Regions from separate parts of the Homo sapiens genome. Here region 2 is linked to region 1. A link means that fine-mapping ties the variant in region 1 to the expression of a gene that starts in the linked region. Tissue or cell type: whole blood. Region 1 holds a variant in brackets; the other region holds the start of a gene. All regions are shown on one strand. Distances are from middle to middle.

Region 1 (8,104 bases):
AATGTGTAATGCCCGCTTGAGGTTACCAAGGTTTGAATCAGTATACTCTAAATTCTGAATGTATATGGATGATGACTAAATAAGCGCAGGTCATATCTGAATCAGCCTACCCAGTCCATAGTATCCAATATACATAGCATGATTCCCTAAAAATGTTATTATATATTAGTATATGCATACCAAAAAAAGGTGGAGGACTTTGCTATAAACTATTGACAGAGTTGTTGGTGAGAAATGTGTGGCAGAGACTGGCCAAAAGTTCAACAAATCTGTTTCCTCTTCCGCCTGGCCACTCATCAGCTTACATTTCTCAGTCTCTCTTGCAGATAACTATGGCCGTGTGCCTGAGATCTGGCCAATGGAATCGTGGACAGTTCTCCATGCTCTTTCTCCTTCTGTGGCAACTCTGAATGTCGTGTGTTCAAGATGAAGACAGAAGATAGAATGACCTTGGGTCTCTGAATCATTGCTTGGAGAAGAGCAATTTACTGATCAGTGGTGTGAAAATAAGTAATTCAAAATCTAAGCTATTGGGCCAGGTGCAGTGGCTCACGCCTGTAACCCCAGCACTTTGGGAAACCAAGGCAGGTGGATCATTTGAGGTCAGGAGTTCGAGACCAGCCTGGCCAACAGGGTGAAACCCCGTCGCTACTAAAAATACAAAAAATTAGCCGGGCATGGTGGCATACGCCTGTGGCCCCAGCTACTTGGGAGGCTAGGGCACGAGAAACACTTAAGCCCAGGAGGCGGAAGTTGCAGTGAGCCAAGACTGCACCACTGCATGCTAGCCTGGGCAAGAGAGCAAGACTCTGCCTCAAAAAAAAAAAAAAAAAGAAAAAAATCTAAGCTGTTGGAACATTAAATTATTTTGAGCTTTAAAGAAATGTGTTTATGAGACTTGAGTCATGTGACAGGCAGCTGTAACCTAGGAAACTGTAAACATTTTTTCTCTGATTATAGATTAGCCTCCTTCCTTATCTACATAATTTTGTAAAATGTTGTAAATGACTAAAGGGTACTTCCCTTTAGTCCCACTTCACTGCTGATCTTCATTGCAGATTAACTTCCTTCCTACCTCTCTCACACAAAGCCTTCATGACTGTTACATTATATACTCTTTTAAATTAGAAAATAAATGAAACCAAGCCACAAGGAAAAGAAAACAAATTAACTAATTGAATTGTTTTAATTCATAAACCAGCTTTGTATAAGAAATAATCCTGTTAAATTTCTTTGTTTTCTTCCTTTATAAACAAGACCTTAACTTTTGACATCAGAGCACGGACCCCATTTCACTGACCCCATTTTCACGGAATAAACGCCTTAAAAAAATTTTTTTAATAGAAACAGAGTCTCACTTTGATGCCCAGTCTAGTCTTGAACTCCTGGCTTTAAGCAATTCTCCTTCTTGGTCTGCCAAAGTGCTGGAATTACTGGTGTGAGCCACTGTGCCCAGCCTGAATAAACTCTTTAAAAATGGGTGCTGATCCTTTTGATTCTTTCATGTTGATAGGGGCAAAATTCTGTTTTAGATTTCACTGGTAAAAGATAAAATCTTATCTTATTAGGCATTTGAGATGTTAGGATTGATCTGTTAAACTGCTAGCATTACATTAATCCCTACAATAGGGTTATAGGAAACTGCAACTTTCTACATTTTACATTTAGATACTGTTTGCATTTTGCAGAGCTTTACATTGCATATTTATAATCAGCATTGTATGCAATATAGATTTTTAAAAATTATGTTTCAAAATTTATAGCCAGCTTTTTCTCCTTGTCCTCTGAGTAATTCTTTTGCTTAACATTTTGGTGGAAAATGCAAAGCTGGGTGGTGTTACCAAAACGCTTGTTGCCCAAGGTCTATAAATATAGAAATCAGTTTGCTATCATTTCTGGGTTTTTTAATTGAAATATAACTCACATACTATAAAATTCACCCTTTTCAGCGTACAATTCAGTGGTTTTTAGTATATTTACAAGGTTGTGCAAATATCACCACTATCAAATTCCAGAAATTTTTCATTACCCCAAAAAGAAGCTCCATACCCATTAGCAGTCATTCCCTGTTCCTCTCACCCCACAAGCACTGATCTACTTTCTGTCTCTATGAGTTAGCCTACTCTGTACATTTCATACAAGTGGAATCATTAAAAGGTGGCCTTTCATGTTTGGCTTCTTTCACTAAGCATAATGTCTTCAAGGTTCGTCCATGGTGCAGCATATATCAGTACTCTCTTTTTGGCTGTATAATATTTTATTTGTGAATATACCACATTTTGTTTATCCATTTATCAGTTGATAGACATTTGGGTTGTTTTATGAATAATGCTGCTATGAACTTTTTTTAACGTAATTTTTAATTTTCTTTGAGACAGAGTCTTGCTTTGCTGCCCAGGCTGGAGTGCAGTGGTGCAATCTTGGCTCACTGTAACCTCCACCTCCCAGGCTCATGTGATTCTCATGCCTCAGCCTCCTGAGTAACTGAGATTAAAGGCTTGCACCAGCACGCCTGGCTAATTTTTGTAGTTTTAGTAGAGACAGGGTTTCGCCATGTTGGCCAGGCTGGTTTGAACTCCTGGGCCTATGTTATCTGCATACCTCTGCCTCCTAAAGTGCTAGAATTACAGGGGTGAGCCACTGCACCCAACCTGCTATGAACATTCTTTTTTTTTTTTTTTTTTTTTGAGATGGAATCTCGCTGTTGCCCAGGCTGCAGTGCAGTGGCACAATCTTGGCTCACTGCAACCTCCCTCTCCCAGGTTCCAGCAATTCTCCTGCCTCAGTCTCCCAAGTAGCTGGGATTACAGGCACATACCACCATACCTGGCTAATTTTTGAATTTTTAGTAGAGACGGGGTTTCACCATGTTGGCCGGGCTTGTCTTGAACTCCTGACCTCAGGTGATCCGCCCTCCTCGGCCTGTCAAAGTGCTGGGATTACAGGCGTGAGCCACTACACGGGACCTGAACATTCTTAACAAGACTTTTTTTTTTTTTTTTTAAATGATCGTAGGCCAGGCGCGGTGGCTCAGGCCTGTAATCCCAGCACTTTGGGAGGCCAAGGCGGGTGGATGACGAGGCCAGGAGATCGAGACCATCCTGACTAACACAGTGAAACCTCGTCTCTACTAAAAATGCAAAAAATGAGTCGGGCGTGGTGGCGGGCGCCTGTAGTCCCAGCTACTCGAGAGGCTGAGGCTGGAGAATGGCGTGAACTTGGGAGGCGGAGCTTGCAGTGAGCCGAGATCTCGCCACTGCACTCCAGCCTGGGCGACAGAGCCAGACTCCATCTCAAATAAAATTTAAAAAAAAAAAGATCGTTTGCTTTTTATTGATACAAAATATTTTATGTATTTATGGGGTACATGTATTTGTTACATAAATAGAACATGTTTTGATTAGCCGGGCGTGGTGGCAC[G/A]CGCCTGTAGTCCCAGCTACTGGGGAGGCTGAGGCAGGAGAATCGCTTGCAACCGGGAGGTGGAGGTTGCAATGAACCAAGATCGTGACACTGCATTCCAGCCTGGGCGACAGAGCAAGACTCCATCTCAAAAAAAAAAAAAAAAAAAAAAAAAGAACATGTAATGATCAAGGCAAGGTATTGGAGGCATGTATCACTTTGACTTTTATCATTTATCATTTCTATGTGTTGATAACATTTCAAGTCCTCTCTTCTAACTACTTTGAGATACACTATACAGTGTTGCTAACTACAGTCACCCTACTCTGCTATTAAATATTGGGACTTATTTGTTCTATCTAACTGTGTGTTTGTACCCACTAATCAATATCTCTTTATTCCCCCTTCCCACCCACATACTCCTCCCAGCCTCTAGTATCTATCATTCTATTCTCTATCTCTATGAGACCAATTTTTTAGCTCCCACATATGAGCGAGAGCATGTGGCATCTATCTTTCCATGCCTGGTCTCTTTCATTTAACATAATAACCTCCAGTTCCACCCATGTTCCTGCAAATGACACAATTTTATTCTTTTTTATGGCCGTATAGTATTCCATTTTGTATATATGCCATTTTTTTTATCCGTTAGTCCATTGATGGACACCTAGGTTGATTCTGTATCTTGGCTATTGTGAGTAGTCCTGCAATAAGTATGCAAGTGCAGGTATCCCTTTGATATACTGATTTCTTTTCCTTTGGATAAATACCCAGTAGTGTGATTGCTGGATTATATGGTAGTTATATTTTTAGCTTTTTGAGAAATTTCCATACTGTTTTCATTAACTGTGGTACTAATTTACATTCCCACCAACGGTGTATAAGAGATCCCTTTTCTCTTTATTTTGGCCAGCATCTGTTGCTTTTATCTTTTTATAGTAGTCATTATGGGTCAGACGAGGTGGATAATGTCTATAATCCCAGCATATTTGGAGGCTGAGGTGAGAGAATCACCTGAGCCCAGGATTTTGAGACCAGCCTGGGTGACACAGTGCCACTCCATCTCTTTTCTTGTTGTTGTTTTGAGACAGAGTCTCACTCTGTCATCCAGCCTGGTGTGCAATGGTGTGATCTCAATTTACTGCAACTTCCGTCTCTCAGGTTCAAGCAATTCTCCTGCCTTGGCCTCCCAAGTAGCTGGGATTACAGGTACGTGCCACAACACTCGGCTAATTTTTTGTATTTTCAGTAGAGATGGGGTTTCACCATGTTGGCCAGGCTGGTCTTGAACACCTGACCTCAGGTGATCTGCCCACTTCGGCCTCCCAAAGTGCTGGGATTACAGGAGTGAACCACCACACCCAGCCAAGACTCCATCTCTACAAAAACATTAAAAATTAGCCAGGTGTGGTGACTCATACCTGTAGTCTCAGCTATTTGGGAGGCTAAGGTGGGAGAATCACTTGAGCTAGGGAGGTCAAGGCTGCTGTGAGCCATGATTGTGCCACTGCACTTCAGCCTGGGTGACAGAGCGAGACCCTATCTCAAAAAATAAAATAAAATAAAAAAGCCGGGCACGGTGGCTCACGCCTGTAATCCCAGCATGTTGGGAGGCCGAGGCAGGCGGATCACGAGGTCAGGTGGATCATGAGGTCAGGAGTTCAAGACCAGCATGACCAACATGGTGAAACCCCATCTCTACTAAAAAATACAAAAAATTAGCCAGGTGTGGTGGCACACGCCTGTAATCCCAGCTACTCAGGAGGCTGAGGCAAGACAATTGCCCAGGAGGTGGAGACTGCAGTGAGCCGAGATTGCACCTTTGCACTCCAGCCTGGGAGACAGAGGGAGACTCTGTTTCAAAAAAAACCTTTTTTTTTGTAATTAAAAAAAAAATAATAGCCATTCTCAGGCATGGTGGCTCACATCTGTAATCCCAGTGCTTTGGGAGGTTGAGGCAGGAGGATCGCTTGAGGCCAAAAGTTGAAGAGAAGCTGGGCAACATAGTAAGATCCCATCTCTACAAAAATTTTAAAAATATTGGTTACATAAAGAAGTGGAAATTAATTGATTGGGCATTTGTTGAGGGAAGGATAGACAGATGAATAAAAGATATGGGACAGGAAAGAACTGACTTTTGCTGTATTTTATGTTTTCTTTAACATATAATCCATTAATATCCTGTTATTGAAGCAAGGTAATTATTACACCACCAGCACCACACACACATACATAAACACACGAGCGTTAAAGTCATTAGGGAAATGCAAATTAAAACCACAATGAAATGTCACCCCACACCCACTAGGATGGCTACAATTTAAAAAAAAAAAAACAGACAATAACAAGTGTTGGAGAGATTGTGGAGAAATTGAAACCCCCATACGTTGATGGTAGGGATGTAAAATGGTGCAGCCACTGTGGAAAATAGTTTGGTACTTCCTCAAAAAGTTAAACATAGAATTTCCATAAGGCCCATATGATCCAGTCATTCTTTATTATTATTTTATTATTCTTATTTTTTTGAGACAGAGTTTCCCTCTGTCACCCAGGCTGGAGTGCAGTGGTGCAGTCTTGGCTCACTGCAACCTCTGCCACCCAGAGGTTCAAGCAATTTTCATGCCTCAGCCCCCCACGTAGCCAGGATTTCAGGCAAGCACCACCATGCCCAGCTAATTTTAGTATTTTTAGTAGAGATGGGGTTTTGCCATGTTGGCCAGGCTGGTCTCGAATGCTTGAGCTCAAGTGATCCGCCCACCTCGGCCCCCCAAAGGGTGGGATTACAGACATGAGCCACTGCCCCGGCCGTGACCCAGTCATTTTACTCCCAGGTGTATACTCAAGAAAATTGAAAACAAATGTTCATACAAAAGCTTATATACCATATTTGCAAACTATTCATCCAACAAGGGATTAATATCCAGAATATACGAGGAACTCAAACAACTCAACCATAAAAAATAAATAATCCCATTAAAAAGTGGGCTAAGGATATAAATAGTTATTTCAAAAGAAGACATACAAATGACCAACAGGTATATGAAATAAATGCTCAGCATCACTAAACATCAAGGAAATGCAAATCAAAACCACAATGAGATATCATTGTATCCAAAAAGGAATGATTGTCATCATGATTATGATTATTATTGTTATTCTAAGAGACAGGCTCTTGCTCCATTGCCCAGGCTAGAATACAATGGCATGACCATAGCTCACTGTAGTTCAAGCAATCCTCCCACCTCAGCCGCCGCAGTAGTTAGGACTACAGGCATGCACCACCACACCTGGCCAATATTTTAAAATTTTTTTCTAGAGATGGGATCTTGCTATGTTGCCCAGCTGCTCTCCAACTTTTGGCCTCAAGCAATCCTCCTGCTTCGGACCCCCAAAGCATGGGATTGCAGATGTGAGCCACCATGCCTGAGAATGGCTATTACTTTTTATTTTATTTTATTTTTTGAGATAGGGTCTCGCTCTGTCACCCAGGCTGAAGTGCAGTGGCACAATCATAGCTCAAAGCATGGGATTGCAGATGTGAGCCACCATGCCTGAGAATGGCTATTACTTTTTATTTTATTTTATTTTTTGAGATAGGGTCTCGCTCTGTCACCCAGGCTGAAGTGCAGTGGCACAATCATAGCTCACAGCAGCCTTGACCTCCCTGGCTCAAGTGATTCTCCCACCTTAGCCTCCCAAGTAGCTAGGACTACAGGCATGAGCCACCACACCTGGCTAATTTTTTTTATTATTATTATACTTTAAGTTCTAGGGTACATGTGCACAATGTGCAGGTTTGTTACATATGTATACATGTGCCATGTTGGTGTGCTGCACCCATTAACTCGTCATTTACATTAGGTATATCTCCTAATGCTATCCCTCCCCCCTCACCCCACCCCACGACAGGCCCCAGTGTGTGATGTTCCCCTTCCTGTGTCCAGGTGTTCTCATTGTTCAATTCCCACCTATGAGTGAGAACATGAGGTGTTTGGATTTTTGTCCTTGTGATAGTTTGCTGAGAATGATGGTTTCCAGCTTCATCCATATCCCTACAAAGGACATGAACTCATCCTTTTTATGGCTGCATAGTATTCCATGGTGTATATATGCACACCTGGCTAATTTTTAATGTTTTTGTAGAGATGGAGTCTCAGCCGGGTGAGGTGGCTCAAGCCTGTAATCCCAGTGCTCTGGGAGGCTGAGGCAGGAGGATCACTTGAGGCCAAAAGTTGGAGAGCAGCTGGGCAACATAGCAAGATCCCATCTCTAGAAAAATTTTTAAAATATTGGCCAGGTGTGGTAGTGCATGCCTGTAGTCCTAGCTACTGGGGCGGCTGAGGTGGGAGGATTGCTTGAACTCAGGAGTTAAAGGCTACAGTGAGCTATGGTCATTCCATTGCACTCTAGCCTGGGCAATGGAGCAAGAGCCTGTCTCTTAGAATAACAATAATAATCATAATCATGATGACAATCGTTCCTTTTTGGGTACAATGATATCTCATTGTGGTTTTGATTTGCATTTCCTTGATGTTTAGTGATGCTGAGCATTTATTTCAAATACCTGTTGGTCATTTGTATGTCTTCTTTTGAAATATCTATTTATATCCTTAGCCCACTTTTTAATGGGATTATTTATTTTTTATGGTTGAGTTGTTTGAGTTCCTCGTATATTCTGGATATTAATCCCTTGTTGGATGAATAG
Region 2 (8,104 bases), 28 kb before region 1:
AGTCTCACTATCACCCAGGCTGGAGTGCAGCAGTGCAATCTCAGCTCACTGCAACCTCCGCCTCCCGGGTTCAAGCGAGTCTCCTGCCTCAGCCTCCCAAGTAGCTGGGACTACAGGCATGCACAACCACGCCCAGCTAATTTTTGTATTTTTAGTAGTGATGGTGTTTCACCATGTTGGCTAGGATGGTCTTGAACTCCTGATCTCAAGTGATTTGCCCACCTCAGCCTCCCAAAGTGTCAGGATTACAGGCGTGAGTCACTGTGCCCAGCCCAGAAATTTCTTTATGCTGGACCTGGGCAAATCAATTAGCAAACTGCCACCCACAAAATCAAATCCAAACAAATTCAACAAGGCATTAAAAGCCCTTCACGCCGGGTGCGGAGGCTCACACCTGTAATCACAACACTTTGGGAGGGCGAGGCAGGCGGATCACGAGGTCAGGAGTTCGAAACCAGCCTGGCCAGCATGGTAAAATCCCGTCTCTACTAAAAATACAAAAATTAGCCGGGCGTGGTGGCGCACGCCTGTAATCCCAGTTTCTCAGGAGGCTGAGGCAGGAGAATTCCTTGAACCTGGGAGGTGGAGGTTTCAGTGACCCGAGATTGTGCCACTGCACACCAGCCTGGGCAACAGAGCAAGACTCCGTCTCAAAACAAACAAACAAACAAAAAGCCCTTCACAACTTGGCCGACATCTAACCTTTTTTGCAGTCTGGTCTTCTGCAAAACTCCAGGCCCCAGTATCACTGAACAATTTAGGCCCTCTCCTGCCTCCGTATCTTTACTCTTGCTCTTTCCTTTAGCTGACCCACCTTATTAGACATCTTTGCCTGGATGTGCTACAAACACCTCAAACTAAAAACATTCAAAATGCATTTTTTCCCATGTCACTTCCCTAATTTACCTCTCATACTCTCTATCTGAATGGTACTACCCATTCAGTTCCCTAAGCCAGAAAGCCAGGCAATCGCGCTATTCTTACCTCTTCATTCCCATAATCAGCCTCCAATTCTATGGATTCTATCTTCTTAATATTGCTCACATCTGATGCCTCCTCTCCATTCCCATTTCCACTGTCTTAGTTCAGGCCATGTCTACAGCAAGAGCTTCCAAACACTGTTTTACTTCCCCACAGGGCTGGTCCCCTCCTACTTGACAGAATGAACTTTCTGAAATATAAATCTGACGACATCATTTTCCTGCATAAAACCCTTCAAAGCATCTCCATAGCTTTCAGGGTAAAAATCCAAATTCCTTAGCATGACTTACAATGTCCTCCACATATGACTGACCTGACCACATCTCACTTCCTCCACTTCCCCAGCCATTACTAGAATTCCAGTCACACTGAACTCGTCATGGTCTTTCAGCTGTCCGGTTCTCCAGGTCCTTGCACCTGTAGTAGTCTCTGCCTGGAAATCCCTTTTCCGGATTCCCTATGTAGCTAAATAAATATTTCAAGAGTTAGCCTCCCATTTCCTCCTGGAACCCTGGGCACCTGGCTCAGGTATTTCTCCACTGTGCTCTTGTAGCCCTGTGCTATGCACTATGACACTGTAAGCCATCCCTCATTTACTTGTCTATTTCCTCTCCCACTGTAAACTCCAGAAGAACTGTATTCTTTGCCACAAAGGCTATCTCATTAAAATGTGCCTCATACATATTAAGGTCTTAATAAACGTCTGGTGGGGCCGGGCACGGTGGATCATGCCCGTAATCCCAGCACTTTGGGAGGCCGAGGTGGGGGGATCACCTGAGGTTAGGAGTTCGAGAGCAGCCTGGCCTTCACGGCGAAACCCCATCTCTACTAAAAATACAAATAAATAAATTAAATAAAAGTCTGGTAAATGATAAATGTGCTGATATGCCCCCGGATTTTCTCTTGAAGAGAGAGCCCCACAAAGAGCTTCAACTGACACAGTTCTGATGCTAACCTGTCTCAAATGTTCTCATTCCACTCTTCGAACGCATTCCTATTTATCCTTCAAAATTCATCTTAAAAACTCTGCTTCTTCAGAAGGGCTTTTCCTGAACCCCCTGTTACATACTTTCAGAGCACCCTGTTCTTTCCTAACACTCATCAACATTTATAATTACTTCTTAAACATCCCTGCAAACACTGCTAGCTCCACGCGGGCAGGGTCTACATTGTTTTGTTTTAAAGCTGCATTCCCCGCATCTGGGAAAATGCTGGCACAGAATAAACACAATTTGTTACGCTGAATTTAATCTTGTGGGGTCAGCAGAGATCTCCACTTAAAAGATGAACAAAAGGAGGCTGAAAGAAGTTTAAGGCACCTATGGCCACAGACACTCAGCACTGAGGCCAGACCAAACCTGAGCCGTCTGATTTCAGGTCCAGAAGTACATACCTTCAATGTTAGCCTGGCTTGTCAAAGTAAGAGCAGCAGCCGAGGAGGAAAGGGAGGATATCTGCCTGTAAATACAAGGATGTGCCCGCCTTTCTTTTAAAAACTCCCTAGGCATTTCAAACGGCTCAATTTGGGAGGAGAGAAAAAAAAAAGTTCCACGCAGCGCTGGCCTTTAACCTGCAGCAGCCTGCGGGGCAACACCGACCGGAAGACCATCCCAAGTTAGAGAGGTTCCGAGCAACACGGGAAGAACTGGGGCTGGTTATCTAAGGCACCAGGATCATGATTCCGATTCTTTTCCTCACTCGCTATATATCTCAGACTAGCCTCTTCTCTAGGGATCAATTTACCTATCAGTGCAATGGGAGCATCAACAGGAGACAGGGAAGACTCTCCGATCTCGGAGGTTCCTTCCAGTCAGAGCACCTCAGGAATCAGGCCTCCGCTGAAGCTGATGGGCAGCGCTGCGAAATCGGGCAGAGGGGCCTCCCCGGGGCACCCGGACTCAGCTGCTCACCCCGGCCCCACCTCAAGAGACCGCGCCCAAGAGTCCGGGTCGGCCTGAGGGCCTCAGCCCCGGCCCTCTCGGCAGGGTTCATGACACGCGCGTAGGCCAGAAGGGCCATTAACACCACCAGGGGCCGATGGGCCCCGGAAGGGACCCCAATCCCTACCAAGCTGCACACCCTCACCTCAGAGTTCCGCCTCACCTCCGGACTGCGATCAGCCGCTCTCCGCTTCCGGCAAGAACCGCCCAGCAATCTCCGCGCGACCCACTTCCGGGCCCTCACTGGGCGCGGCGCCCCCACCGGAAATGAGCCGCCGGCTGAAGCGCTAGGCTGGCCCGCGACTGGGCAGGAAGTCTCACCGCCCCGCTCGTGACTCCGCCCCTCTTCGCCACGCCCCGGAGAGAGCGGCCCGGCTCTCACAGAGGGCACTTGGGAAAGAGCCCCGCCCTCAAGGCGGGAGCGACACGGGGAGGGCGGGCTCACAAGAGAGGCCACGCCCTCGTTCCGCTTTACCTACCCGGAATCGCCCCCGAGGCCCGGGCCCAGGAAGGGCAGAAGTCCCTGGCTAAGCTCCTCTCTGGAAAGAACAGAAGAGTGACCAGTTCCTCTGTCAGTTTGGTCTCAATGGCAGAGGCCGGTTCCTTTAAGCTGCAGTCCGTAAAGGGTCTTGGAACGACTGGGGGCCAGGATTCTCTGAGGGCGGGAATCCGGGCGGCCGTCAGCTCTCGGTGGTGATCGAGGCCACGCTCCGCCTGTCTCTGGGCGTGCATACCTCGGTTTCCCCGTTTGTGACGTGGGAAGGCAATTAGTCTGGACATTGTTGTGGGAGGACTTGCGGAGACTGGGCGCAGGGCGTGGGGGTCAGTGAGGGCGCGGTGGGTCAGCCCCAGCCCGGCTGGCAGTCGCGGGGCTGGGAAGGTAGGGAACCCTCCGCTCTCACCCCACTTCCTGTTTGGTCGGTGTGTTCTGTGACCATAGATGGTCAAGTCTGGGGCCGCGCGGAAGCCTCCGCCCTGTGGTTTTGGAGCCCTTCCTCCCGGCGCGCAGGGTGTGGTCCCCGAGAATAAGATGAGCAGAATTAAAGCAGATCCTGCACCCACTCTGCTGAAATCCGGCTTCTGAGGCAGCCTCGCCCAGGGCTGGGTGGGCTCAGGCGGCTGCTACTCGGTTCAGGGGAGGTTACGCACGGTGGCTGCCGCGCGCAGGGGAGGCTTCGCTTCCGTACTCCTTGGGCCGGGAGATCCGATCTTTGTTCCCTCAAGACTCACACTCTCCAACCGGTCATTATCCTCCCACAAAGATTTATTTCTAGAAAAAATTGGCAAGTGCCACAGTTCCCGCCCCTTCAGCTGAACGACTGTGACAGCTCCGTGTTTCAAGTTGAATGCAGGCGTTATGTGCCAGAGTCAATCATTCAACAAATAAAGTTCTTAAAATAACAGCTACCATTTACTGCACGCTGACTACTTGCCAGGCCCATGCTGAGTTCTTCAAGCGTATTTTCATTTACTCCTAATAGCAACTCTCGGTGGTAGGTACCATTATGCCCTCTAGTTTTCAAATGAGGAAGCTGAATAACTTGCCAAGGTCAGAAAGTAACTGTTGAAACTTTGAAGGAAACACATCTGTCTGACTCTAAATCCCATGAGCTTAATTAGCCCCTGTGATAGACCATACTGCAGACATTTGAGGCAGATTTGAGGTGGTGAATGCCTCTGGATCTGGAGACACTGGGTTCCAGTGCTGGCATAGGCCCTCTACTAGGGGTCAGACTTTGGTCAGGTTACTTTGGACGGGTTACTGGGCCTCTTCCTAACTTTATGGCTCCCAGCATGTTTAAAAGAACATGACAACATGAAAAAATATGGTATAAAAGTCATAGTATATTTTAAATATTGACATTTAACTAAAAACACTGTCTCACACACACACAAACTCTAACTTTATTTGGACATAATCTTTGACTCTGCATTTAGTTATTCTAAATCTCTTTCTGGATTAGAGACAGAAGGAACATAGACCATACACGCATTCTAGAGGAAGAGGAGAGAGAAGAGGAAGCAGGAAGGAGAATGAAGAAAGTTTCCTCATCAGGTGGGGAATATTAATGGGGCTGTAATGAGAAACGGAAGCAGTAATGTATGTGAAACCACTTTGTAAAATGCTTCATTATAAAGAATGCACACACGACTTAAGTTACAACCCCTGCCCTAAGGAATGTCCAGTCTTTTAAGAAGTCTAGATCCATGCATTTGTAACTCCAGTAGGAGATGGGAAGATAGTTTAAGAATATCCGTCACATGAAGGGCTGGGCGCGGTGGCTCACACCTGTAATCCCAGCATTTTGGGAGGCCGAGGCGGGCAGATAACGAGGTCAAGAGATCAAGACCAGCCTGGCCAATATGGTGAAACCCCGTCTCTACTAAAAAATACAAAAATTAGCTGGGCGTGGTGGCATGCGCCTGTAGTCCCAGCTATTTGGGAGGCTGAGGCAGGAGAATCGCTTGAACCCGGGAGGCAGAGGTTGCAGTAAGCTGAGATCGTGCTTCTCTACTCTAGCCTGGCGACAGAGTGAGACTCTGTCTCAAAAAAATAAATAAAAGAATATCTGTCACATGTATTTATGCACTGAAAAAAAACTATTGAGCTACATAGTAGCAATTATTGGAAGAGTTCAATAATTGCTATGCTACTTTGTACCAAGCACAACTAGGGATCCAGCAGTGGACAAGTCAGACCCTGTTACTGCTCTCATGGAGCTTACAGTCTATTTTGGAAATGATATTTCCATTTGGAGTGGTCATCAGAAGATACGCTGCCTTCTGTCTTCCAGCTTTTTCCTCCTCGCTGATCTTGCCCCTTGTCCAGTACCCAGTGCTTCATCCATGGTGAGTTCTCATCTAGCACATGTTCAGTGAGTGCCTTGAATTCAGAATAGTCATTTCCTAGGCAGAGATGGACAGATAGATCCTTGCAGAGCAAACATGAATGAACAGTAGTGGAGATGGGAATCTGTGCTGGACTGAGGTGAGAGGTTCCTGCAGGAGAAAAGTAGGAGATAAGGCTGAAGAAAAGGAGGTTGAGCAAACTATGCTAGGCAAGAGAGGTCAAACCTTAATGTGAAAGCGAGGAGGCACTAGTCATACTGTATTTTAGAAATAAAAATCTAGCTACAGTGTAGGGCATGGCCTTCAGTGGGCAACAAAAGAGGCAGGGAGAACTGCTAGAAGATAAGCACAAAGATCTAATAAGAATCTGAATCGGCCAGGCGCGGTGGTTCACACCTGTAATCCCAGCATTTTGGGAGGCCGAGGTGGGCGGATCACCTGAGGTCAGGAGTTCGAGACCAGCCTGGCCAACATGGCGAAACCTCATCTCGACTAAAAATACAAAAATTAGCCAGGCATGGTGGTGGGCACCTGTAGTCCCAGCTACGTGGCCGTAAACCCAGCTACTCGAATCTGCTGAGGCAGGAGAATCACTTGAACCCAGGAGGTGGAGGTTGCAGTGAGCTGAGATCACGCCACTGCACTCCAGCCTGGGTGACACAGCAAGACTCCGTCTCAGAAAAAAAAGAAAGAAAAAGAAAGAAATTTGTATTATTTATAAATTACCCAGTCTAGGTATTTTGTTATAGCAGCAGGAATGAATTAAGACACATTCTCATTCAATACTGCTTTTCCTTCCTGGCAGGTATTACAATCCTCATTCATTATTTGTGCACTTATCTTTTAATAGCTTCCTCTCCTGTAAGTTGCTTCCTCCCAATAAGTCCTTGTTTGTCTGGCACAAAATTGATAATAAGTATTTATAGTAAAAATTGACTAAATGAAAAGGGTGAGAGGGGCCAAGTTGGCTCTGAGACTTGGCATGTGGGGAAATGGAAGGTGTAAAAAGGATTGGATCTGGGTTTGGGGGTTTTGAGCCTCAGTCCTCAAAATCCAGCCTGGGAAGAGAAGGAGAAGAAAGAATTCAATTAATCAATTTACAAGCAAGAATTGCCAGCAGAGAGTTGATTGATTCTCACACATTCCCCCTCTTCATGTATTATTGCCACTTTCTTATGGCCTGGATTTCAGCACATTCTGAACCTGCAGAATCACTTTGTCTCTGAGGGAGCCACCCAAGTTTCCTCTTTATCTCTCAGGGTTTCAGACACAGAAGTCTGGCGGTTCATCTGGAGCCTTTCCCAGCCTGACTCAGAGGACTGCCTGCATCTGTGCAACCTGGCTCAGAGCCTGTCTACGTTTGGGCAGAGCCTATATCCCCCTGCCAAACGGGCTAATGACAGACAACAGTCTATGTGACCCTATCTTTCTTCCCCTCCAAGGGTATGGCCCCAGATTTCAGCCTCAGATAGGGGATCAGGCCCAAAAATTAGGAGTTGGCAAAAGAAATAGCCGCAATATAGAAATATGATTAAGATCTGGCTTTGGGGTCACTCTGAAACTGAATCCCAACTCTGCCAACTGTGTGATCTTGGAGTTATCCTCATTTAACCTCAGAGGATATATTAATAGCCGTCTTAAATGGTTGATAGGAATTAGGACAGAAAACTAATAAAACACTTGGCTCACAGTAAACACTCAATGAGTAGTAACAATTATTATTAAGTATAGAGAATCTCTTGTCTGTTTCCCTGGCAAAGGCCATCAGAAAGCAAAATAAGGTCTAAAGTGTCAACATACTGGATGGTGCCACCAGAACTACTACTACTGTCCCCATCCCCAGAAAGTTTTCCCACAGTTCCTGCTTCTTTGTATTGCTAACTTTTTTTTTCTTTTTTTTTTTTTGAGACAGAGTCCTGCTCTATCACCCAGACTGGAGTGCAGTGGCATGATCTCAGCTCACTGCAACCTCCACCTCCCAGGTTCAAGCGATTCTCCTGCCCCAGCCTCCAGAGTAGCTGGGATTATAGGCACACACCACCATGCCAGGCTAATTTTTGTATTTTTAGTGAAGGGGGGTTTCACAACATTGGTCAGGCTGGTCTCAAACTCCTGACCATGTGATCTGCCCGCCTGAGCCTCCCAAAGTGCTGGGATTACAGGTGTGAGCCACCGTACCCGGCCTTCTTTTTTTTTTTTTTTTTTAAGACAGAATCTTGCTCTTAGCCAGGCTGGAGTGCAGTGGTATAATCATAACTCACTGCAGCCTTTAACTCCTGGATTCAAGTGATCCTCCCACCTCAGCCTCCGGAGGAGTACCTGGGACTACAGGC

The links. PIP is the estimated chance that this variant, and not a neighbour inherited with it, causes the effect.
Region 2: it holds the start of CAP1, and the variant in region 1 is fine-mapped to the expression of CAP1 in whole blood (TOPMed, PIP 0.98).

What each region holds. Positions count from the first base shown.
Region 1 is chr1:40,007,280-40,015,383 of GRCh38, reverse strand. LOC105378669 (a long non-coding RNA gene) reads left to right here. Exons shown (of 3, transcript XR_001738013.3): 3 at 315-1,479. Among named protein-coding and RNA genes, the nearest start is that of CAP1, 29 kb to the left of the region's middle. The variant G/A (reference allele first, on the strand shown) is at 3,421.
Region 2 is chr1:40,035,764-40,043,867 of GRCh38, reverse strand. CAP1 (cyclase associated actin cytoskeleton regulatory protein 1) reads right to left here and starts at 3,139. Exons shown (of 13, transcript NM_006367.4): 1 at 3,067-3,139. It overlaps LOC105378669 (a long non-coding RNA gene), which reads left to right and starts at 3,422. Exons shown (of 3, transcript XR_001738013.3): 1 at 3,422-4,977; 2 at 5,717-5,771. RefSeq lists enhancers at 2,840-2,929, 3,000-3,199, 2,853-3,487, 3,450-3,519, 3,488-4,121.